2 separate regions of the Homo sapiens genome follow, and region 1 is linked to region 2. The links come from fine-mapping of genetic effects on gene expression. A gene starts in region 2. The other region holds a variant in brackets. All regions are shown on one strand. Distances are between the middles of the regions. Region 1 overlaps LOC100506207 (a long non-coding RNA gene). Region 2 holds the start of SLC35B3 (solute carrier family 35 member B3).

Region 1 (12,998 bases), 330 kb before region 2:
AGTTGGAAAAAAAAACCTTAGAGATCCCGTATAGAGACATTTTTTGAACTGTAAGGCAGTTTCACTAGTAGTCCTTAACTCAGGGACCACAGAAGAACCAAGCCATAGGCTTGCCTATGTCACATAGTGAGCCAGAGATGGTCTGGATTAGCACTAGTACCACCAATACCCAGTACGGTTCCTTTTTCACTCTAAAGAAGACTTCTTAGGACAAGAATCTTGACACTTTCTCAGTTTATATTTTTCAAGTGAAAATGGAATTGCAAAATTGGACCATAATTTGCATTAAAGTCACCCTAAGCCCTTAGCCCCTGTAGCTGGATGCAGGAGCAGCAGAACGTGTCAGCATGGATTTGTCTTCTTCTGTTTCTTTGGTGTCCTTCCTTACAGTCAACCACTGAAAAGTTTCTACATGGAGAGATAGTTTGTTCTTGAAGCCCCTTGAACTGGCACCATCCTTTCCAATATTTTCTCTGGTTCTTTCATGTAAGTGTTATATCAACTTTTGAAAGAGTGTTGGTCTGTTAATCATTTCTTCTACTACTAGAAAATTAAACAACATCTTTAAATCTCTTGGGTCTACAGTCTTTAGTTATTTTAACATTTAATACAGAAACTAGGACAATTCTACCCCTAAAACATCTTATTTTCAAATCTACTTGCTTCTGTTTCCAAAGTTCAAATAAAATATAGAGAAAAACCTAAATGGAAAGGTTCCTGTTTGTCATGGCTATGGCTAATCTGGCTATGTATTTAGAGCTTATGAACTGTGCCTGTAGGGCAAGGATGCAAAAAGTTAGGATTTCAGAAAGCCCCCAAGACACACAGCCAAATCTGTAATGTTTAATGAGATCACCTCCAGATGTAACTAACATTAGGAATGTCCAGTTGTGCAATATTATTTCTTTTATTAGCAGGTAATTTAGGCTTCTGAGCAAATTAACAAAATCAGCAGAATAGTCAATATTGAGTTGGGCTATCACTGGTACACTTAAGAAAGAGCTCTTCTGAATTTTAGGAGTTAGCACCTATTCAAAAATAAAGTATAGATTTGTCATTTTTATTTTTTCTTATCCAGTTCCCAGGCACTGGGAGAATGAATGGGATGACAGAAAATAATACAGACCTGAATTTGATAGAACCATGTTTGAAACCCAACTTTGTTGTTTCTAGCTATTATACTTTAGGAAACTCCTCTCAACCATATTTTTCCATCTATAAATTTGGAATCAATATGCAGTCTATAAGATTGCTGTGAAGAACAAAGTAGATAATTGACATGAAAAGGTCAAATACAATACTTGGCATGTGGGAGAGGCTGTTTCAGAAAGCGTGGCCCAAGATTAACTAAAGAAAAAGTGGTGATATGTATAATACTAACAATTGAAATATCTATGGTAACCTTTGTTTCTCCAAAAATGGGATGTTCATAACTCTAAAGAAAAAGTATCAACCCCAGAATTTTGGTTTCTTATTTACAAGGATTTTGAAGGCAGCAGAGCCAAGTTATATAAACTCCTCCAGAGATTTTTGTCTGGTTTTTTAAACTTGTTTATCTGAGACTATATCTGATTGAATTGTCATAATTTTAGATTGTATATTAAACCTGAAGAAATTTAAAATAGATACACTAAAATTCCATTCCAATCTCTAAGTTAGAATCATTCAACACCATCAAGTGCTTGGAACATTCATTTCAACACTTGGCCCCAGCTCAGCAGGGCCTGGACTCGCAATCACCCTAAGCTTTATGAATTAGAGCCAAATAAGGCATTAAAGAATCCCAAATACTCAGTCTTGGGTAAAAAATGGTGGTTATCAGTGTACAAATGTGACTCCATGTATCTCTAACATCTATATTACTTCAGTGAAACAGCAACAATCACATTAATACAAAACACAATCTAGAAATACCTCAATATTTATTAAAACAACACAAACAACAATAAATTTTGTAAGACTTTAGCCATAGCACTTGACATATGATAGAGGTCATGCTCATAAGTAGTTACTTTAGAAACTGTTAATCCCTTTTCGCAACCAGTCACAGGAAAGCCAGTAAGATTCATTAACCATTAAAGCTTCAGCAACTGATTTTACTACACCATTTTCAGAAAGAGCAGGCTGGATAGAATCAGCATAACTAACTTCCTAAGTTAATCCATATATTCAATGCAACAGAATTTTTTCCTAGAACTTGACAACCTTATCTTAATGTTTATACGAAAGAGCTAAAAGGCTACAAATGATCAATTCTATTTTGAAGGCAAAAAGGGTAAGGGATTCATCCTATCAGATACACAATGTTTTAGAAGGACCAGGAGGAAGGGGAGGTAAAAGAGGAAAAACTCATGTAACTATGACAATGTATATTAGTGCAGGGCTAGGGAAACAGAGCAGAGAAACAGAACAAAGTGCCCAAGGATGTTTATATAGAAAATACGATTTAGTATTCAGAATAAAAAAAATCTTACAAATCTATGGACAAAACCCAGTGCAAACATTTCAAACTCTCTTGTTATAAATGAAATGAATATTTAAAACACAATGATCTAACTCTTCACACTCATCAGACTGACCAATATTAAAAGTTACTTAAAAGTGCTAGGATATGGAGAAAGAGAAGAAATTGTCAATAGCTAGTAAAGCTGAAGATGGGTATAACCTACAGCCAAGAATGCCACACTTGGAAAAACCTTCTACATGTGAATGTAAGAAAACATACACAAGAATATTCATTGCATCATTGGCTGTGATTAGGGAATAGACTTAGGAACAAGATGACCTGAACATCAATCCTGGTACCAATCCTTATTAACTCTGTGAATTCAGGCAAGTTACCAACCTCTCTGTGCTGTAGTTTCCTCATGAGTGAAACAGCCTCACAGCTATTGTAAGGATTAAGTGAGTTCATACAAATGGAGCATTAAAAATAGTCTTTAAATTTAATGTTTACTATTGTTTAATTATATTTATTTAACATATACTTGTTATTCCAAGTTTACTAACCTACCACAATAGGAAATGATTCTATTTCCAAATCAGAACTTCATTCTTCCAAGCTACACTAGGTCACATGGAAATCACTGTTCTTCAAGCCTTCAAACCTCATTTCAGCTGCGGAAAAATTTCCTCAACAAAAGCTTAAGCAGAGGAAGGTAATGGGGTCTAGGATAAACCTGATCTTTCAGAAGTCAGCATGACATGGTTAATCTCCATCATGGTACCCAGATTTCAAGGGTTAGTAGAAATAAGCAAAATTAAAGAAAACCAGATGCACCAAATTCTAAACCTAAGAACTGGGGAGACTAGGGAATGCTCACGTTTTTGAAAGGAAGCCCTCTAATTCCAATAAAGTGTAGTTCCCCCACTTTAATTCAAATTACGATTTGGTTTACAACAAATACACACACATACACAGCTTGCTGAAATTTTTTAGAAAATGTACAATGTAATGAAGTGATTTTTGTACTTGAAATCTTTATTTTATAATCACAAAAGTGATAGGAAAATTAAAAATATTAAAAACACAGACTTACAAAGAGTCAAAAAATTAAAAATTATCTTAGCCTCTTTCCTTCACTCTAATGATTTCTTTCCCTGACATTTTATACACACACACACACACACACACACACACATACACACACGCATACCCCACAGGGTATTTTAAAAGCACATGAGATTGCAATATTCATTACATATGCATAAGACCAATTTTAGTTTCATTCTTTCTTATCCATGTGTATATCCAATTATCCCAATATCATTTATTAAATGACTTCCCACTGACTTAAAATGCTATTTTTATTACAGTTGTAGTTTTTTTCCTGGAATCTAGTCTATTCTATTGATCTATTAGTCTATGCCAGTGCCAAAAACCACATAATTTGATTTACTATAGTTTTATATTACATTTTGATGTCTGTAGAAAAAGTTCTCCTTCACTCCTCCTTTAAAATTTTTCTTGGCCATTACTATGGTTTCTTTCCCTCACCTCATCTTTATGATTGACTTACAAAGTTCCATAAAGTATATTCTGGAGATTTAGATTGACACTTCTTTAAATTTATAGATTTATTTGCAAAAATGGGGTATTTTCAATATCCCAAGATACGCTGTAAGAAGAAAAAAGTGGATTACAAAAAATATATACCTTTCTTGAATATTGAATGTCAGAGAAAGGTAATTTTCTAAAGATAGATAAGTGAGGGTACTCATTTTTATTGTGAAATAGGAAGGAAAGGATAAAGTGAAAAATAAAGGCACAAACAATATGACGCATTATAGTTTAACTGATTCGATTTTGAGGCATGTCTCTTTTACCCTGTCTGGACCAAAATTTTCTCATCTGTTAAATAAGAAACTTGGACAGGATGAGGTCTAAGGCCATTTCCAGCTCTATAGTCTAAGATATTCTTACTTTAGACAGGACAAAAGCATGGGCCAAGACACATGCAGCTAAACACCAATCCAGACACACTTTGTGCGTGGCCATGCTTGCACCATATTCTGGGAAGAAAACAGACTTATTGCCCTGCCTACATTTGTGGATTAGTCAGCCAAACTGAAGGAAGGCATTGTCCATCTAATTTTTCACTAGAGAATGTTGAGGCTCAGCAGAATTAAGCAAATTTTCCAAGATCACACAGGTAACAAGTGGCAGAATGTCACTTCAATACTAGATGTGTGATTCCAAGGTTGATTTTGTTCCTGCTGTGTAAAGCAATTCTGAGTGCTTGGTGAGGCAACAATAGAATAAATGGGCAGGTAGATGTCTAAAAATTAAGAGATTAAGGGTATCACATTTCAACTATATATTATCTCCTGACTTCAAAGTAGAAAAATAAGCACTTGCTGAGAAAAAAATAGAACATATTTAGAATTGACCTTTTAAAAATCATCATCGAGACTAGATGTCAGAAGAATTACTTTTAAAAATCAGTGACTTAAGACTGACTTAAACTGACTTCAAGTCTCTAAGGATGAAGACAACAGGAGAAATCATTTTGTACTCTGTTATACCAAATAATACGACCAATAAAATGAGTGTTATCAATATCTTCTACCCTAACTAGCATCTATTGTACTATCTAGCCTATTTATAATAGCACCATGAATGGTAGCTTTTAAAGAATTATTTCCGTAAAACCAATACGTAAAAGAACTATGTTAATAGTAAGAGTTTATATTTACTGTATATGCAGCGTATGCCACGTGTTGTTCAAGTTTTTTACAGATTGCATAGTTAAAGCAGTTTGCACTCTGCCCTTCACCTAGACAGCAGTGTGTGTATTTAAATGCAGGCAACCCAGCCCCCAAACCCGAGATCACTGTGCTCTCACCAAGTAAATTTAATGAACTTCTGGGGAAGAAGAAGAAGAAGAACAAGAAGAAGAGGAAGAGGAAGAAGAAGAGAAACAGGAAGGGGAGGAGAGGGAGGAGGAGGAAGAGGAGGAAGAGAATAGGTCAAGTCACAGTGCACAGTAGGTACTGAATACTCTTCTAAGCTCCTTTAACATATTAACTTCTAACAACCCTTTGAAGTCCAGTCACTGCCTAATTCCTTAGAAGCTGTGTGATATTGGGAGAAGTAACTAACATAACTGAGTTTGACATTAGAAACAAGAATGGTAATACTTAACACAGAGTTTCTGTAAGGT[T/G]TAAATGAGTGAATTCATTTGAAAGTATGCAGCACGTAACTGCTCAATAAATGCTTCCGGTTTTTGCCTTTCTGTACAATATTTTCCATGTAATTTCAGAAAATTTCATTGTCCCCATGTAAAAGAGTAACTTCATGGATCTGAATATTTAAGAGCACCAGAGTTTTCAAATTCATAATTCAATCTAAAAAATCTAATTTGTTCGACTCACTTTTACCTCCTTCTTAATAGTTTGTTTAATAGTTCCTTCTCTCCAACACATTAGGCTAAAAAATATGAGTATCTGTACACCCCACCTCTAAAGTCCCTTTCCAAATAGAAAAATACTTATAAATCTGAAATCAAAGTGATCTTGTGAGAAAAAAGAGGATTCTATTACAGTTTACACACAGTTTACACTTATATAATCATCCACTGATGTTAGTTAGGCTCATGCTAGACCAAGAGTCGCAGAATTTTAGGGCTGGAAGAAATCTGACTTACCTGTACAATAGCTGCATTTTACATATAAGAAAAGTAAATTTCAGAGAAGGTAAGTGGGTTGTCTAACATCACTGAATAGCTTGGGAGGCTCGCCAAGGGCCACAGCCCAGTCCTGTGTCCTGTAAGCATCGAATATGTTGACAAATTTAGTTACTTGGGCATGAAGTGCATGTCATCACACCATGCCCTCTCAGCATTGTTGGTACCAGCTGAACAATTATTAGACAGTTGTCATTACCAAGAATAGGTGGTCTTTGGCCTAGAGTTGTACTCAAACATTGTTTTTTGTTTGTTTGTTTGTTTGTTGAGACAGAGTCTTGCTGTGTCACCCAGGCTGGAGTGCAGTGGTGCCATCTGGGCTCTCTGCAACCTCTGCCTCCCGGGTTCAACCAATTCTCGTGCCTCAGCCTCCCTAGTAGCTGAGACTACAGGCGTGCACCACCATGCCTGGCTAATTTTTGTATTTTTAGTAGAGATGGGGTTTTGCCATGTTGGCCAGGCTGATCTCAAACTCCTGACCTCAGGTGATCCACTCACCTCAGCCTCCCAGAGTGCTGGGATTACAGGTGTGAGCCACTGCACCCAGGCTCAAACATTGTTTTGTAAAGTGATAGGCTATCAGATGCAGAGTAAATATCATGTCATTTGTTCCCCTGTGCTGGCAAAAGGAGTTGAGAAGAGCAAATTGTTGTTATCTCTGCCAAAGAGGAGGAGAGACTTATTAAGAGACAGTAGTTCCTAGACATGCCCAGCAGGACATTTTTTTAAAATTATCTATACTTTCACCCACCTCATGATTTTGGAAAATGTGTGGAACAAACTACATAAGTGAATATATCCTTATATCCATTTGGTAGTTCTATGATCCACCAATAATGAGAATGCCTCAAATCTCCCATTTCAAGTTTTCACTTAAAAGTTTGAAGTCTTCAGATGTTTCAATAGTCCAAAGTCTTAAGAAGTTTCGGAAGCTCAAGTTGGGATCTCTGTTCCTATGAATACCTTACGTTAAAAATGGGATCTGACGTTCAAATATGTTTTACCCCATTTTGTGCATAAAAATGTTCAGGCAAACCCAAATACACTAGAACAACACTCTAAGATGAATTTAATATCTTTTTATGTTCTTAACTAAGGTTTTAGGAAAATGTGATTGTTTCTCACCAATTGTAAGATGCAGCATCAGTGAGAAAGACTGAGGCTGAAAATTCAGTTGGCAAACTTTCACAAAGTTTGGAAGTGTGAAGCAGAGCTGTTTGAGCGCAGGAGGTCTTTTAGATGTAGGGAGTATCTGGATTGATCGATTTCAGAGAGAAATAAAAATGAACAATCCCATGTGTGCCTACGGTAGCAAGCATGTCATACACAGTTTCATTTAGTACAGACTGAAGGTCTCAAAGTAGGTATCAATGACCTGATACAATGAGAGACTTTAAGAAACATGTCCAAGGGACAGAAAACTGTGTTTCATATGCTATTGTTTATATTTTTATGTGTTGAAATGAAAGCATGAACCAATATTTTCTTACATTGAAAATGAAAAGACAAACCAGAATTTTTTTAAAAGGACATCTAAAGGTGAAAGGTAGTGGAAACAGGCATAGAAAGATACAGGGGTAGAAGCTAGACCTCTCTGAATATACCTTGCTCTGTAGAATTTACTTTGGAACCACGTAAATAGGTAAATAGTTCACATAATCATAAACCAAAATTAAATGTTAAAAAGTAATTTGTAATATCCAAAGCCAAATAAAATAAGTTAATTTAAATATGTGTCAAATTGACACCAATAGAAAAAGGGGGATTTTTTCAAGTGACTTTAAGACATAGTATATGACTACACATCCCTAGTGCGAGAGATCCTGTGGGCAAATATAACCACGAAAAAAATCTGTTTTTGCTAAGCATAGTGTGAGCGGTAGTATTGGTATTGCTATTCTGAGACTGTTATGCATGGATTATGTAATACGTCAATTAAGTATGTTGGCATTATTGAGAACTGGAATTTTCACTGTGACTTGGAGATATAATATTGAATGAGGGCAGGTAAAAATTCAGAATCCTGAATTTGATTAGGAAAGATCAGTATAAACTTATTATGCATTTTACCTTAGAATTGTTTACCTAGCACAATCTACTGAAAATGCCTAGAAACTATTAGGTAGCAACAAGCACCATTAGTGCCCAACACTATTTTGCACTAAAAGAAACCAGTTTTCTTCTGAGAAATGACTGATACCAAGCCTAGAGCAAGAAATGTGCAAAATGAGCCTGAAATATTTTGTACATTACAAAGAAAGCTACCAAAGACTTTTAAGGGCGTGTCAAGAAAACTCAGGAGCTAACTTGAACAGACTCCTATATTAGCCAAAGAGACTTTTGAGGCATTGATAGGATAATAACTAAATCTGACTGCAATTGGCTTAAGGTGTTGCCAAAGGCATCAGATATATTTAAACAAATGTGTTCTTAACAATACAAAAAGAACTAGTTGGATATCTCTGGAGGATGATGATATGGAACCAACCAATTATTTTGAAAACTATTAAATAAAGAGAAAGACTCAAGCATTTATCCTGCCTTCCTCTTCATACATATTTTTAGTATTCCAATTAATATAAGAATAAATTTCCATTTTAAACATGTAAATTAAATACAATAAGACTTTACATATGAACTAAAATTTGCATTTACCAAACAAAGCTATTACACCTTGCGATTCATATTTTGTTTCAGTCTTTTAACATTTAAGAACAAATAACTTCAAGCGGTTTAACAAAATGACAGAATTGATGGAATTAAAGTAACTTGTGTTCTGTGTATTCCTCTTTACAGTGACACTGATATGATTATTGATTTAGAATTAAGCACAGGACGATGTAGCACCAGAGGGATTGGAGACACAGACTACACCCAGCACAAGCTCTAATGAATCCAAAGTTTTGCGAACTTAGTCTCAAAATTAAAACATTTAGCCCAATTCTCGTGTGTGAAGCCAACTGTGTAACTGGACTTCTCTGAATTTACTTCTATGTAGAATAGCAGGTTTATTAAAGAATACATAATAAAAATGTGTGAAATTGAAGCCAAGATACATATTATTAAAACTCAGCAGTAACCACAGCAATTATTTAGAACTTAGTCCAACAGAAGATTTTCTTTTTCAGAGACATTATTTAGAATTAGCAACCTTAGTAATAATAAAAATATACCAGCTTTTAGTTAGTTTCAATATTGTTTTAAAATTCTCTTTAGGATTCAGATTACTGTGGGCAAAGCACCCCTTATTGCCTGCACCCAGAACAGGCCACTCCCACTGGCTCTACCCACAGTTGTTGCCACTGGATCTGGGCAACTGACTCCAACATCACAAGAGAGACAACCAGACATTATTCACCTACTAACTGAAATATGAGACCTTGTCCAAAAATAGTTCTTGCTAAAAACAGCAAATATAATCCAGCCTCCAGATTCAACTATAAAAGTGCAGGAAGTACAGAGTTCACAGAAATCAACCAGCAAAATCCAGACGGTAGGGAACCCACACAACAAATGACACAGATTTTTCTTTTTCTTTTTCTTTTTCTTTTTTTTTTTTGAGATGGAGTCTCGCTCCGTTGCCCAGGCTGGAGTGCAGTGGCGCCATCTCGGCTCATTGCAAGCTCCGCCACCCGTGTTCACGCCACTCTCCTGCCTCAGCCTCCCGAGTAGCTGGGACTACAGGCGCCCACCACCACGCCCGGCTAATTTTTTTGTATTTTTAGTAGAGACGGGGTTTCACCGTATTAGCCAGGATGGTCTCGATCTCCTGACCTCGTGATCCGCCCGTCTCGACACAGATTTTTCAACAAATATTGCAGAAGGAGAGAGGAGACTTAAGAGATACATCAACTGATGGCAAACTATGGTCTTATTTGAATCTTGATTCAACACTTTTAACAAATTATCTGAGACAATTGAGAAGATATAAACACTGACTAGCTATTTGATGGTATTAAAGCATCATTGTTAATTTTTACATGTGATAACGACATTACTTTTTAAAAAAATTTTAGACAGAGTCTAGTTCTGTCACTCATGCTGGAGTGCAGTGGTGCGATCTCAGCTCACTGCAACCTCCACCTCCTGGGCTTAAACCATCCTCCCATGTCAGCCTCCAAGTAGCTGGGACCACAGGCATACGCCACCATGCCTGGCTAATTTTTGGATTCTTAGTAGAGACAGGGTTTCACTGTATTAGCCAGGCTGGTCTCGAACTCCTAACCTCAAGTGATCTGCCTGCCTCGACTTCCCAAAATGCTGAGATTACAGACGTGAGCCAACACCCCAGACCCTGACATTACTCTTATGTTTAATAAAATAGCTCTTAAATGTTAGTGATAAATACTAGAGAATGATATAATATCTGATATTTGTTTTAAAATTATCTGACAGAATGGCAGCGAGTGCAAGTATAGATGAAACAAGATTACTATGAGTTAGAAACTATTGAAGTTGAGTGTCGTATAAATGGGACCTTATCATTTCACTCCATTTCGTACATACTGTATATGAAATTTTCTATTAGAAAATGTGAAAAAAACATTTCCAAAGATCACAAAGCTGATGGGAGATTTGAATGGTATGCAACTTGATTTCCTTTTATGGCAAGCAGAAGAAAAATTACAGAAATGAGGAAAGGTACTTGTTTCAGGAAGAGCTGAGTTAGCGGGAAAAGACAGGGCAATTAGCCTCACTCTTTACACCTGAGAAGGAACACTTCTTTGAAATGGGAGACATGGAAAGAAGAATATGTGAAGAAATCTGGATACTGGCACATGTATGTTCTACGGAAAGAGACGGAATGTGGGGATCTTGAAGGCCTTGAGCAATTAACAACTTTGCTTCTGAAGAAAAGTGAAAGGGCCTGAGCAGATGGCCTCCAAGTCTCTTTCTCCGCTTACTTCTACCATATTCTCTCACGTCAATGACAGAGAACAGAACCAGTACCTTTTCAATTTGACTTGCTGTTAATAATGAATTTGAAGGCCAGTAATTACTTTCATTGTTAACTGCTTTTTCTCTGTTTCTCACAATATCTGGTAAAATATGCTCTGAGAATCAGTTTTTCATAATTAGAGGTTCCATACTTGACCTGTAAATGATTCTTGTGTACTATTAAAGACTTGAAGTTACTACTTTACTTGGATAGTTGATAAAACCAGGCTTCACATCATTGTCAACTCATGAAATGGAAGGTCATTCTTGCAATAAATTCCAGTAAATTCTGATGGATTTTTCTTATGAGTAGTAGAAGGTGGTAAGGTTGGTTTTGTGGCAGGGATTTCGACCCTCAAATGTGGTCCTTTAGCTGCAAAAATTTAAGAACAGATGAAATATAGCTCTCATGTGGTAATATCTAGGGTGCCTGAGGCAAAGCTCACTGAGAAGATGGCCTGGCCGACTTGAGAATTCTGAATTCATTGCTTTCTATCTACAACAGCCGTGGGAAGCACAGGAAAGGCAGCACTATTTCTGCTCCACCAAAAATGTGTTTTGTAGCACTTCACCCCAGGATCATGGAGCGGAGTACTTATAGAGACTGACACTTCGATCATACATACATTGACACATCACATTGCATCACATCTCCTGAATTGAATTGATGAAGGAAATCAGAAAAGGGTGCCTACATTCAATAATCTGAATTCTTCGGAGACAGCTCAGTACTCTGCAAGTCAAAAGAAGAATAAATTATTACAGAAGACTCTCCAATGCAGCTGCTTCATATTAAACACTGTCAAATAACTCCCAACTTTCTTTGATCTGAATGAATTCTCCATATTACTTTGGTGACCTTTAGCACATCTCTTTTTGACTTCCATTCTTTCCTCTTTTATTCTATTTCTGCCTATAAATGTTCATTCCTCATTTTCACTATGTAGCATATATAAACTTATGTATCATATAACTGTGTGTATGTGTATATATATATATATATATATATAGAGAGAGAGAGAGAGAGAGAGAGAGAGAGAGAGAGAGAGATAAGATGTTCAGTTGCTTTTATTTTATGAATGGATAAAAAAACAGTAAGTGTTGTAGTAACTTAAAAAAATGATAAAGACACAAGAAGTTAAATAATCTAGCAAGAAATAAAACCATAATGCCCTGGGCTGCTGGAGTATTCTCCCTCTGATGATTTAAGGCATAAAAAAGACAAATCACACAAATTCTGTATCTAATGACTTTTTATGTTTTTCCTAGGAGTAACAGTAATGATTTCAAAACTTTGGAAGAAAAGAATCAACAAAATGTTGAGGAAGACAAAAGAGTACATAATGAAAATAAAAGCTATGTTCTTTGGGGAAAAAAATTGAAAGGTTGTAAATAGAGGAATAAGAAAATGGAGAAAACTGAAATTCCACAGGCAAAGTGTCTTCTATTATTTCATCTTTAAGACAGAATATAAAGCAAATAAACAAAACATCAATAGGGCAAAAAATATATTTATTATATTATAGGTTTATTTTTTATAAATTTATCATAATAAATCTATGGCTACAGAATAATAAGAACAGTATTACTTATTGTGTACATACTAAGTTCCATGTTTTAACAGTTATAGTGTATAGATAACTTAAAAACTACAGATTAGAATAAGCAAAAACTGTGTGCTTTGAAACTTTTCGTTTCAAAATAAATTAAAAGATATAAGCAGTTTAGGCTGGGCGTGGTGGCTCATGCCTGTAATCCCAGCACTTTGGGAGGCCGAGGTGGGTGGATCTCTTGTGGTCGGGAGTTCAAGACCAACATGACGGAACCCTGTCTCTACTAAAAAATATAAAAATTAGCTGGGCATGGTGGTGCATG
Region 2 (12,998 bases):
TATTTCTCCATCTCATTACACATGCTACCTCTTTATGAAGAATTTTGCCCCATGCCAATTATCAGTACTGGGAAAGAAGAGGAGTCATGGCTGGTGTCCAGGTGGCCCAGTTCTGTGAACCTCTATCCATTTAGGAGACAGCAGAGAAAAACTGATAGCCCTGGAAGTCAAGCAACCTACAGGGGAACTGAATCTATAACCACAGCCTCATTAGCATAGCCTATAGCTCCCATTGCATCCTGTAGTTAATACCCTTATCAACACAAATCACACTATAATTACTTGTGTAATTAATTATCTCCACCACACAAGGCTGTGAGCTTTGTGAGGGCAGGGATCCATGTCTGTCTTGTCATCCACATATCCACAATACCCAGTAGCATGCAGAGTAAGTGCTCAATAAGTATTTATTAAATGGATATTTAATGAAAATCAAATTAACTAGTTTTTCTGCTCAGTGCATCTGGAACCATATATCTATCAATGAACTTCCTAGTTTGGAAATGCTATATAACCTATTCCTTATGGAAGAGCTAGAAAAGTGACAACTGATGACTATATATAAATGGATTATTCTAATGATAGTAGGCTATATTAATAAGAATATTAATAGCTAACTTTTACTAAGTGTTTGTCAGGTAATAGGTGTTGTGCTAACCATTTAACCATCTTTAAACATCTTTCACTTACTCATCACTACAATTTACCACATAGGTACTACTGTCATTCCCATTTCACAGATGGGGAGATTGAGACTTAGAGAATTTAAGCAATTTGCACAAAGACACTCAAAGAGCAAGGGGTGGTGCAAGGATTTAAATTTAATCTGACACTAGAACCTGAGACTTAACTATGCAAGATGATTCTTCACAGACACATGACTAAGTAACACCAATTGACACGAACTGACATTGTTGATCACTCCTTCCTCCTTTAAACATTGTCTTCACCTGGCTTTTAGAAGACTGTACATTCCTGGACCCATCCTATGTCAACAGCTGCTTCTTCTAAGTCTCCACTGCTGGTTTCTCTTTCTCGCTCCCCCAAGTCACATGACTTGATTATCTAGGACATCCTAAAATACATAAAAACACCTCCCAAAAATTGCTCCTAGGAAATGGAAGGCATTTATCCATAGGTGCCCATTCCCCATTGGTGGATCATTGCCTGGGGGTGTTAATGCCACCAAACTTCCCAAGGGCCAGGTGTGTGTGTGTGTGTGTGTGTGTGTGTGTGTGTGTGTGTGTGTCAGGAGTGACGGCATCTCAACCCTATCTGAGCACTGTTCCTGAAAAGGATACTTGCTGATGTTCACAAAACAATGTCAGTGTTCTATCAGGCCAATTTCCTCCAGTTGATACAATATATGGTAGGACCAGTGGAATTCCATGGTCGTGTGTCATTGTCACACCTCTTTTACCATAAAGTGTGTCCTTTAGTTGGAGGCAATACATCAGAAAATCATGTGTTTGGGCTGGGTGTGGTGGCTCACGCTTGTAATTGCACCACTTTAGGAGGCTGAGGTGGGCAGATCACTTGAGGTCAGGAGTTCACAACCAGCCTGGCCAACATGGTGAAACCGTGTCTCTACCAAAAATACAAAAAAATTAGCCAGGTGTAGTGGCAGGCACCTGTAATCCCAGCTACTGGGGAGGCTGAGGCAGGAGAATGGCTTGAACCTGGGAGGCAGAGGTTGTGCCACTGCATTCCAGCCTGGGCAACAGAGTGAGACTCTGTGTCAAAGAAGGAAGAAAGGAAGGAAGGAAGGGAGGGAGGGAGGGAGGGAAAGAGAGAAAGAAAGAGGAAGGAAGGAAGGGAGGGAGGGAGGGAGGAGATGGAGGGAAGGAAGGGAAAGAAAGAAAAAAGAAAGGAAGGAAGAAAAAAGAAAAGAAAGAAGGAAAAGAGAGAGAGAAAGGAAAGAGAGAAAGAAAGAAAGAAAAAGGAAGGAAGAGAAAGAAAGAAAAAGAAAAAGGAAGGAAGGAAGAGAAAGAGAAAGAAAGAAAAAGAAAAAGGAAGGAAGGAAGAAAGAAAAAGAAAGAAAAAAAGAAGGAAAGAAAGAAAGAAAGAAAGAAAGAAAGAAAGAAAGAAAGAAAGAAAGAAAAAAGAAAGAAAGAAAGGAAGGAAGGAAGGAAGGAAGGAAGTCAATCAATCATGTGTTTGTAACTCTGTTATATAATGGTACTGGCAGAGGCACCATGAACAAGACCAGTCATATCAAGGGAAGTGTCAGTTCCGTAAGTACAAACCACGGCTCTCTCCAGGAAGGAAGGACTTTTGTGTAATTGCTCTCCTTATGGAATTTACCATCAATCTTTGCTGCTGATGGGCTGGACATCCAAAGAGGCAGTAGTCATATCGGCTTTAGTAAGAAAGAGCCTTAATTGTTGGGCCATGCACATGTCCTCCCCTTAATATCACTAAGAAAGTCCTTGTTGTCATCTGACTGCAAAGTAACCCACTTCCAGAGTTCTGAGGAGCTGCATTCTAGACTTTCTTCTTACATCAAATTTCTTAGCTTGGTTTCCCTCAAAACCTGAGACAACTACTTATGTGGGGACAGGTAATTTGGGATGTGATCCTAGTGAGAAACAATGAGAGAATGGAAGGGAGAATATAGACATAATACAAGAATGTGTTATTGAAGTTGCTGTTGTGAGAAACCAGAACCCAATTTCACTGGGACTTTTTGAAAAACACACAGAATGGCCTACAAAACTATCTTGCTCAAGTGTAAGAAGCAAGAGCATTTATCCATCAGTGACTGTCACCCCTTGGTTGAAGGGCCCCAGATGTGTTGACTTACCAGCACTTCAAAGCTGTGCAGGACAGGAGCTGAGAGAGCTACTGCTGGAATGTGTGAAGTCCGAAGAACCTCAGGGAAGAAAGCAAAGAGGCCTGGTAAATGTGGGAGAGGAGAAGCTGTCAGGGAGAAGAATGTGTAAGATTGCATGAAACTGCCCCCCACAACCAAGTCAGAAATGAGAGGTGATGCTCAGAAGATGTGAATCAAGACACCAAAGGTTTCTGATACTACAGAATTATTAATTTCTTAAAAATTTAAAACCAATTCATAGGACCAGGCGCAGTGGCTCACGCTTATAATCCTAGCACTTTGGGAGGCTGAGGTGGGTGGATCACTTGGGGTCAGGAGTTCGAGACCAGCCTGGTCAATAAGGTGAAACCCCATCTCTACTAAAAATACAAAAATTAGCCGGGCATGGTGACAGGCGCCTATAATCCCAGCTACTCGGGAGGCTGAGACAGGAGAATGGCTTGAACCCAGGAGGCAGAGGTTGCAGTGAGCTGAGATGTGCCACTGCACTCCAGCCTGAGCGACAGAGTGAGCCTCTGCCTCAATCAGTCAATCAGTCAATAAAAAACAATTCATAGCTGCAAGTCTTTAATTTTGTTTACCACGTGGTTATCACAGGAGTAAATGGGAAGTATTGTAAGAGAGTCGATATTTATTAAACACCTACTCTATAATAAGTACTACTCCAGATAGTCTCTCCTACATTTCACATTTGACATGTAAAAATATTTCACTGACATGGTAGTCAGAGAAGAGCCAGGTGACATTTGAGCAGTGACTGGAAAAAAATGAGGAAGCAAGCTCTGTGGACATCTGAGAGGGCAGTGTTCCATGCAGAAGGAACAACAGCTACAAAGCACTGATGCTTGCTGTGCTTGGGGGCAATTAGAAAAGCTCTGAAGTGTAGCTTGGATGTGATCCATCAAGAATAAGTTCAGTCTTAAAAGTCAGGGTAAGAATTTTGAACTTTAATCTGAGTAAAATGGTAAACCGCTAAAAGGTTCTGCACAGAGGAGTGGCATATTCAGGTTCTAATGGGATCACTCCAGCTGCTGAATGCAACTATGTAGAGAAATAAAGGGAATGCAGAAAGCTATGCTCACGGCTACTGCAATTGTCCAGGCATGAGCAGATGGTACCTTGTAACACCTCTTGTACCTTAAGTTGTTTTATACTGCCATTTACTTTCTCATGGAAACCCCTAATTTCTTCAGGACAGGGAGCTCATACGCATAGTTTACGATATGAGCTATACATATGCCCATTTAATAAATACTTGATAAATAACCACCATATAAATGGCTAACAGTAGTACTAAATTCACATTATACAGTGACGATATGGCATCACTGAAAGGTTTTGTCATTTACTATCTCTTTAGGAAATTTAAGTTCTCTAAGCCTTAATTCCAACATTCCTAAGTGTTGCTAACACCAGCCTAACAACGTTGGCAAGTATTAAACGAAAATGTCTACCCAGACCTTTTTTTCTCACCACCAAAGTAGGTGCCTTGCTTTCTTACAAACCCTCGATCCCAATACAAGACACAAATGCTACCCTTTCTGAAGAGTGCCTGTAAAATTTTAAAAGTTGTCCATAACTGACTGGATTCTAACATACATATTAATCCAATTCATCCCTTTCTGGTATTCAAGGCATGCTTTCAAAAATTGTCCATCTTCGTTACAGTAATATTTTCCTTAATTATTCTCTGAAAACAGCTCATCCCCAAACCGTCTTGGTTTTTACGTTATTACATCTCAGTGGTGATGGATGAGGCCCTAAACGCGGGGAAAACCTTTTACAAAAGTTTTGATGGCTGGTCCTCAAGCTTTGAGATTTACCTTCCAAGAATTAAGCAGCACTATCGAAACAATGCTGGCAACATTTTTATGAGGTTGCAAGGACCACGGTTGCTGCAGCTACAGGATGAGTTATAACGTCAGAAGCAACCCAAGCGTTACTTCAGGCCCATCTTCACCGGAGAAGCCCGTATGAATCAGGCAAAAACATAAAAACAGGTTCTGTGACTTTGCCGTATCTCATTTAGATCAAGTAGCACGCAGAAGGAAGACAAGGATTTTAAAATCTGGCTCCAACATTCTCCACTTGGTCGCGTTCTCAAATCTCAGCCCAGGGCCGCTGACGTAAAGTCGCCTCTCTCGTGGGCACCACGGGCTCGAGGGTAGCCGGCAGCTGAAACCCGAGGGGCTTCAGAGGCTTGGAGGCCAGGAGCAGGCAGAGCGCCGATGGGATAATGAGATTCTCCAGCAGATCGGCGCTCACCGACCTACTCCATTTCAGTGGGTAGAGGTAAAGGCTGAAAGGCGACCCTCGCACCGCCCGGCCCACCTAGGCAGTGCCGGCCTAGCGTCTCTACCCCATAGAGCATGCGCGGGAGGTAACGGCCCGCCCGCCACCGGCCACACAGGCCTGTCGGGAGGCGGGGCCACGCGTCTGCGCACGCGCGCAGGGACACATAGGCGGAAGTGGCCTGCGGGCGCCGGAGTTGAGAGTGCTTTCCGGGGAGGCGACCGCCGCGGTGGAAAGTGCAGGAGTGGGCGAGGAGGAGGAGGAAGAGGAGGTGATGGCGACGGACCAGGGGAGGGGGAGATGCTCCGTCTAGCTCAGACGCCACGCAGGCTGCCGTCACCCTTCCGGGTGACATACCGGCCTTGGGGTACGCGTGCCTTCGGGGCCTTTCCTGTGTTTGGGACCCAGATCTCCTCTCCTCCAGAAAACCTTGACACTGCCCATCTTCCTCATCCAGAAGGAGCGTTCGAGGAATGGATGAGGTCGGGATGGAAGAAACGGGTGATTCCCTTTTTTGAAAGAGCGGAAACCGGCCGGGCGGTTTCCAGGGAGGAGCATCTGTTCCTCCTCGCCCGTTTTTCGCCCTCGGGCTGGCGAGAACTCCCTCAGGTCCCAATCCGTGGACTCGCAGGGGTGAGGTGACCTCAAGGGGTCTTTTACGCTGTTCTCGGGGTCTCTGGAGAACTGTCAGTCACCTGGATACCTCTAGACTGTATTTACAGTTAACTGTTTCCTCGTTCCGTGTTTATTAAATAGGGGCACTCCAAGGTACTCTTTTCTCCATTTGGCTTGCAGTAGAATGTGATTGTTCTGGCTGGGCTATTAAGTTTATGGCATAAACTTCCACTAGAAGTTCTGCAAGTTTCCTCCAGTCTTTGCAACTGAATTATCTCTCCCGTCTTTTTATTATTTAAGGAATATTGAAAGTAAAAGATGGAATGATTTGGTGCGCTAACAAAATCTTAAGTGTTGAGTATCTGCATTTTTTCTACATTAGGATATCAGAAGCCTAGAATTGTTTTTTGATTAAACGTTTTTCTAAGTGAATTGAGATAGTTTGGAACTTGGAAGAGAGGCAGCATTTCAAAATAATTTAGACAGCGTTATTTTTACTTAATTACTTAATATATAAAGTCCTAGTGTTAACTTTTTCTCTTGGAAAAAAAAAAGAATAGTCTTCAAACATTAGCACAGGGTTTCTCCACCTTTGTGTAATGATGTGTGTACAAAGAAATGAGATGGAACTTTGTTTTTTCTGTTTTATAATCGTACACCATAGGCCATGATTGATTCCGGAGCGCAGTTAATCAAGGCATAATGGCATGGTAAGATTCTTTTATTTGTAACGTTGAGTGTGGCAAAGTATAGTTAAAATCACGTTTTTTCAGGTTAATGACACCGTAATGACTTTTTTTTCATATTCTACCTTTTTTTGGTGTGGGACTTTTGTCCTTCAGGTCGGAAAACTCAAAAATAAACTGAAATAATTGTGACTTCAATAGGTCATTGTAACTCAACATTATCACTAATTTTAATTTTTAAATATACATTGTATGCCGGAAATGCTACCTTTTTATTCCATTTTAGCAGTTGAAGTTGAATATCTGTGTTGAATTTAGGAAGAGGCCTCAGGCAATTATACACACCTGTGATTTTTAAAATATATATATATATATTTTAGTTTCACTGATTACTGTGAGCTTCAAAAGCAAAGCACAATGTTGATCATTTAGTCTGAAAACTAATTTTAATTCCATGCTTCATTTTTGCTCCTTGCATCACAAGGAGTTTGGCCCATTTTTTTTTTTAGATGATGGTTAGTATCAGTCATTAATGTTTGAAGTGGAAGGGATATGGCAGACATTCCCCAATGATCACAGTTATTAGGTATCAGAGGTCTTTATCAGTCACACTTTCTCACCAGTGATGTTCTTATTAATAAAACAGCATTCTAAATGCAAGGCTTTGGTGGGCAAGTTTTATGAGACTGATGCCTCAGGCAGAGGAAACAAATTTATTTTCATGTTCATTTCAAATGTTTTGTGGGGAGTTTCAGTAGCAATGTCGGTATTTTGGCATACATGTAGAAAAGACAGTGCTAGAGAGATTTCATTCTGCACATATGGCCTAGATCTGCAGCACATAAAGTTGCCAAGAAGTGTATTAGAAGTGGTAAAGTGTTGGAAAGGAGCTGAATAACGTTGATTAAATAAATGGTGCTTGCTAAACTGTGGTAGAGTCCTTCATTTAATCTTACATTTTTGTTATGTGCCAGAACATCATAGGAAGATATCTCTTGCCTTAAGGATTTCATAGGCTTTTAGGAGAAACAAGTATAAAAACGAAAAAGCTATACCATTATCATTTAGGAATTTGAAAAATATGTATAATATGATTGAGTCCAGGACATCAACTCGTTTTTAACTTCGAGGCCTTATTCATGGATGCAGCATGATCAGACTTCACGTTGAGCCATGTGACAGATGGGTCAGAAAGGGAAGAATTGATTATAAACAGTCTCGTAATCTAGGCAAGAGAAAATGGCTGCCTGATGGAGTAGGGTCCGAAACAGATATTAGATATAGTTATAGAGGTAGAGTTAACAGGAATCTTGGCAAAATATAGAATGTGAGGAAAAGGAAAGATTCTTAAGATGACTCCCAGATTTTTAGCTTGTGTTTCATACTAGGTACTGTTAAGTGAGATTGGGAATATAGGAACAAACAGTAGATTTGTTTTGAGGGGAAAATAATCAGCTTTGGCCATTTTAAATATGAAGTGCCAGCAGAGCTTATGAGTAGAGGTATCAAAGAAGCATTTAGACGTAGAGCTCTGGATCTCAGGAGAGAAGGCAGCGTTGGAAATTCAGGTCTGTATTTCCAGCTGCACATCAAAGGGGTGAGTCAGCTTGAGCACACCATATCACCCTAGCAATATTTCTAAAAAGTTGAAGGATGACAGCTAACACACTTATGGACTGTCATATGCCAGGCAATTTTACATTTATTTCATATAGTCCTAACCAAAATCCTGTGATAGGCACATTTTTAACTCCTCCCACTTTTGAAGGTGCAGAACCTAAAGCTCAGAAAAGTTAAACGATTTGCCCAAGGCTCCTCAGCTAATAAGTAGTAAAGCCAGATCTTGAACTCATATCTGTCAAAATTCCAAAGCATGGGGAAAGCATTATGCTATACTGCTTTCTTATACTATTACCTATAATTGTATTGAGTCATTACAATATGCTTGGCAGTTTACTAAATTACAAACATCTCAGAAGAAGGTGACTTTGGGAAAGCGTGACCTTCTGGAGAAATGTTTTGATGCCAATAAAAGCAGGAAAGAAAGATATTTTCTAGAAGTTTTATTTATTCTGTATGTATGTGTAAATATGTAAGCATTATTTGTAAATTTTCCCCACTCTTTTTCTATAAGATTTTCAGTTTTGCTCATAAAGTTTGCCAGTACCACCATCCATTTCAAAAATCGTATCCAAGCAGAAGGTGAGTGATTGCAAGCTGAAGTTTGAGGGTATCAAGAGGAAGGATCAGTTTATTTGGTTCATCTGAATATCAGGTCAGAGTATATGCCAGGTACCAAGGACACAGAGACAAATAAGATTTGAATCTTGCCTTTCAAGTTCTCTTTTCTAATAACTGGGGGGATTAGTGATGGTGTCACAAAGGAGGGGATATTAAAGCTGAACTTCCAAACCTGACCTTGAGAAAGAAGACCTCAGGCTGAAAGGACATCATGAACAGAAGGCAGCGGTGTTTTAAAGTCCCTGGTGTATTTCAGGAATGAAACATGGGTGGTTTAGGGCTTTATTGAGAGTGGAGGGAGAGCAAACTTAGAAACCTATGTAAGGCCGGGTTTATTTGAATGGTGCACTATATCCATGCTCACACATAGAAAAGAGTAAATTGTTAAGGTTTTCGTCTCTTCTACATTCAAGCACAGGTTTGACCAAATATTTAGGAGAGATAATTTAAAGCATGGTTTTAAAAGAAAGTCACATCTCAAAGATACCCTGCAAGATTACATAAAAAGTCTTACAAATGACAGTGATTGAAACATAATGTGGGAAGCAAGAACAAAGGAAAGTGAAGAATAAACAAGAGGAACACAGTAAACTTCATGAAACAACTTTTCTATTTAGAAATAAGGCAGGTGCCCTATAAAATGTTGTGGTGGCTGCATATTTTTAGTTACAAGTGGTATTCAGATCCTTGACCCCTCCTTTAATTCCTAAGGATGACCTGGTTAACCTCTGTAAATTAGCAAACTAGAAGTGATCATGAAGAGGCGACTCTAATTTTGGCCATTTTAAGCCATCTTGTAACAGTTTAAAAAAACATTACCAAAGGAAAACTCACTGTCAAAATTATTCTTATTTCTCTTCGTGCCGCAGAGTTTAAATTTTTGTTCCCACTGGAATTAAAAACAGATGAGTCGTTTCTAAGAAAATAACTTTTTCTTTTACATAGGTTTATTCTATACTTTGTCATAATTCTTCAGTCTTTCCTCAGTCTTTACATGGAGTTCATTTTTTCAGTTTATATAAATCCAAAGAGAAATTGATGGCTTCATAATTTTTTTTAGACTGACAAAAAATGACATGTTTTCTCCAGCCTTTTACATCCCAGAAGAATGTAAATTAAAATGATTTGTTCCAGAGGAAGAAAACATTTTTTAACCTAAGAGATGCTACTGCTGAAGCATATTGTGCTTTCTGTAGTCTCTGATAAATCTAGCTTTTTAAGGACCTTAGGTTTGGGGTTTCTTTGTTTTGTTTTTTTCATTTATTTTCTAGAGACAGGGTCTGGCTCTGTCGCCCAGGCTGGAGTGCAGGGGTGCAATCATAGATTACTGCAGCCTCAAACTCCTGGACTCAAGTGATCATCCTGCCTCAGCCTCCCAAGTAGCTAGGACTACAGGCATGCACCACCATGTCCAGCTAATTTTTTTATTTTATTTTATTTTATTTTATTTGGTAGAGAGAGGGTCTTGCTATGTTGCCCAGGCTGGTCTTGAACTCCTGGTCTCAAGCAACCTCTCTGCTTCAGCCTCCCAAAATGTTGGGATTACAGGCATGAGCCACCACACCTGGCCTTCATTTTTTTAGTTTATTTTTTAAATGTCATTAGCAAATATATCTTAGAATTGTCTTAGTATTTAAAGGAGAATTACTTATTTTTTACTCCTCTACAAGTGAAGATTGACTTTAATGTTGAGAATGTTATGCATCAACTATATATAGACACAAAGACATGTTTAGTTCTTTGATGAAATAACTAGCTTTTGTTGCTGTGGAAATAAGTATGGTTTATATTCAGTTTAATGATGTACTAATCTTTATCAGCTGTAGACAAATTGTTTAAAGATTGTAGGCATATTGTTTTTGGTGATTTGGAACCTAGAATACAGGAATTAATATACTAATATCCAGAGAGAAGCAGACATTTGTATAACTTTAAAGTATGATTTGGAATATTATTTGGAGGATTAAACTTTATCATGTAAATGTTTTAATTGCTTATTTCCTTCTCTAGGACTTGACACAGCAAGCAAAAGACATACAGAACATAACAGTCCAGGAAACCAACAAAAATAACTCTGAAAGCATTGAATGCAGCAAAATAACAATGGATCTCAAGTTCAACAATTCCAGGAAATATATTTCTATCACTGTGCCATCCAAAACCCAAACAATGTCACCACACATCAAGTCAGTTGACGACGTTGTGGTACTTGGCATGAATCTCAGCAAGTTTAACAAACTTACTCAGTTTTTCATATGTGTTGCTGGAGTTTTTGTATTTTACCTAATTTATGGGTATTTACAGGTAAAAAAGTTATATGTTTGTAATATGTTAATTATTTATAATAATTGCGGTCAGTATGGGCATTTACTAGTTTTGCCCAAGATAGTCACTTAGGGGATACTGGCTGATTCATAAATTTGAATTTTTTAGTATAGAGTAGAAAAGAGCTTCTTAACAGATCAAAATTCAAGAGTTAAATAATTTAAGTGGGGAGGAGGCATATGTAGAGACTATCTTGAAAAATTTTCATTATGAAAATTAAGTTTTAAATATTTAACAAAATGTGTGCTTCCAAGAGAAAGCAATGATTCACGTATTGATTGGTATCTTGGAATATTATTGAATGATAGTGCAGTTTACTTGATTCTTGGAGCTCAATAATAAAAGATCATTTTTGCAAAAATGTATCAGGATATTTTATGGTTTTCTAAAGGTATCTCTTTAATCCTATAATATTTGAATTATTTCTTTTTTAAACACCTCTTATATTCTCATTCTTATTGGTTTTGTCTTCTAACTTTGCCAGAATCTTATTGTTCTGTGATTTTTTGCTGGCACAAAACATTTCTGATACTGCAACAATTTGTCTTATATTTACATTATATTTGGAAAAGTTATATACCTTTGGCTAGGAGCAGATTTCTGACCTTCAAAGACATGGGCTGGATGGGTGAGGATCCAGGCTAGTGAAAACAGGATGTTGGAATGGGTTCTAATTTTATGAATGGTCATTTAATTAGTGGATATTTTCCCATAACTTGAGAAAACCTTTGTAATTCAAGGAAAGGAAAATGATGTATTTTCTTAAAACACAGATATTTCCAGTATTCTTTAGTACTAAAAAGTTAGTGAATTTAAAAATTGTTGTATTCTTTTTCATTGTCTTGTAGAGATGATCATCAAGGGAAATGTAAGTGAACATGGAATTGTGACTGTTTTTTAGTTAGCTTGCAAGAATGCTATGAACAATATTAATGTAAAACAAAAATGAATTAAAAATTTTAATATTTATAATAACTGATATTCCACTAGTAGGTGATATAAAACTTGAGATGCCACAATGAAGAACAATTAAAAATAGAGATTAGAATTTCTTGTTGAGAAACATTTTAGAAACATTTTTTTCTTCAGCATACCACTGTTACCAAATAGCTTGGGAACAGAGTTAGCCATTGCAATGGAAAATGAATTTGAAATTCACCCTGTAAGTGTCATTAAATAAATTTTCTCTAATTAATAATCAGATATTTTAGTTTATAATTGGTTTATGCAAAGTTTTTTAAATTACACAAACCCCTGCTAATTGTATTTATAACTTAACCACTTTGATTTTGTAAAAACTGACATTGCTACTATTACTTATAATTACATATCAAAATAGTTCAGAGAAAATGGTTGGGGTTTGGTAATGAAGTGTTTTTTATAGATGTATGCATATTCATACATACACTTCATTTATTCAATTTGATTTATTGATCAATTTGACTTATTCAATTAAAATTAAACCAGATAACTATTAGAATAACTCTTAGTGACTTGTTAAGAATGGCTTATTAATAACTGATATAAATATTGCTTTATAATATAACATGTTTAGGCAAATTAACCATTTCCTCTAAAAGAAGAAGGTTTATATCATCTATGGCACAAGAATTTCAAAAAATAACATTACCAATATGAAAGAGCTTCTAACCTCTCTAATTTACATTTTGTTGTTGTTGGAGGTGGGGCTTGGTTTCTTTAAAAATGTTGTGTTTCTAAGAATTTATTTTTAGGAAATTAGTGTGCTGCCTTGGACTTAACAGTGTTCATGTGTCTTTTGACAGGAATTAATATTTTCAGTGGAGGGTTTTAAGTCCTGTGGCTGGTACCTTACCTTAGTGCAGTTTGCCTTTTACTCCATATTTGGCCTAATAGAACTTCAGCTTATTCAGGACAAAAGGAGGAGGTATGTGGTTTGTTTTTATTTTTTGATATTTCTATATTAGTTGAATTTTTTTGGCATACTGAATATGCATGAAATTTATACTTCTATTAACAAAACATGT

The links. PIP is the estimated chance that this variant, and not a neighbour inherited with it, causes the effect.
Region 1: its variant is fine-mapped to the expression of SLC35B3 in stomach (GTEx, PIP 0.97).

Annotation. Positions count from the first base shown.
Region 1 is chr6:8,753,644-8,766,641 of GRCh38, reverse strand. All of the region lies in intron 3 of LOC100506207 (a long non-coding RNA gene), which reads right to left. Among named protein-coding and RNA genes, the nearest start is that of HULC, 110 kb to the right of the region's middle. RefSeq lists a cis regulatory region at 4,529 and an enhancer at 4,445-4,614. The variant T/G (reference allele first, on the strand shown) is at 5,664.
Region 2 is chr6:8,427,837-8,440,834 of GRCh38, reverse strand. SLC35B3 (solute carrier family 35 member B3) reads left to right here and starts at 5,290. Exons shown (of 10, transcript NM_001370479.2): 1 at 5,290-5,492; 2 at 10,678-10,971; 3 at 12,777-12,898. The coding sequence starts at 10,771. It overlaps LOC100506207 (a long non-coding RNA gene), which reads right to left and starts at 5,212. Exons shown (of 5, transcript NR_038980.1): 1 at 4,657-5,212; 2 at 2,804-2,895. RefSeq lists enhancers at 4,893-4,982, 5,063-5,142, 5,083-5,252, 5,453-5,512, 5,009-5,550 and 2 more.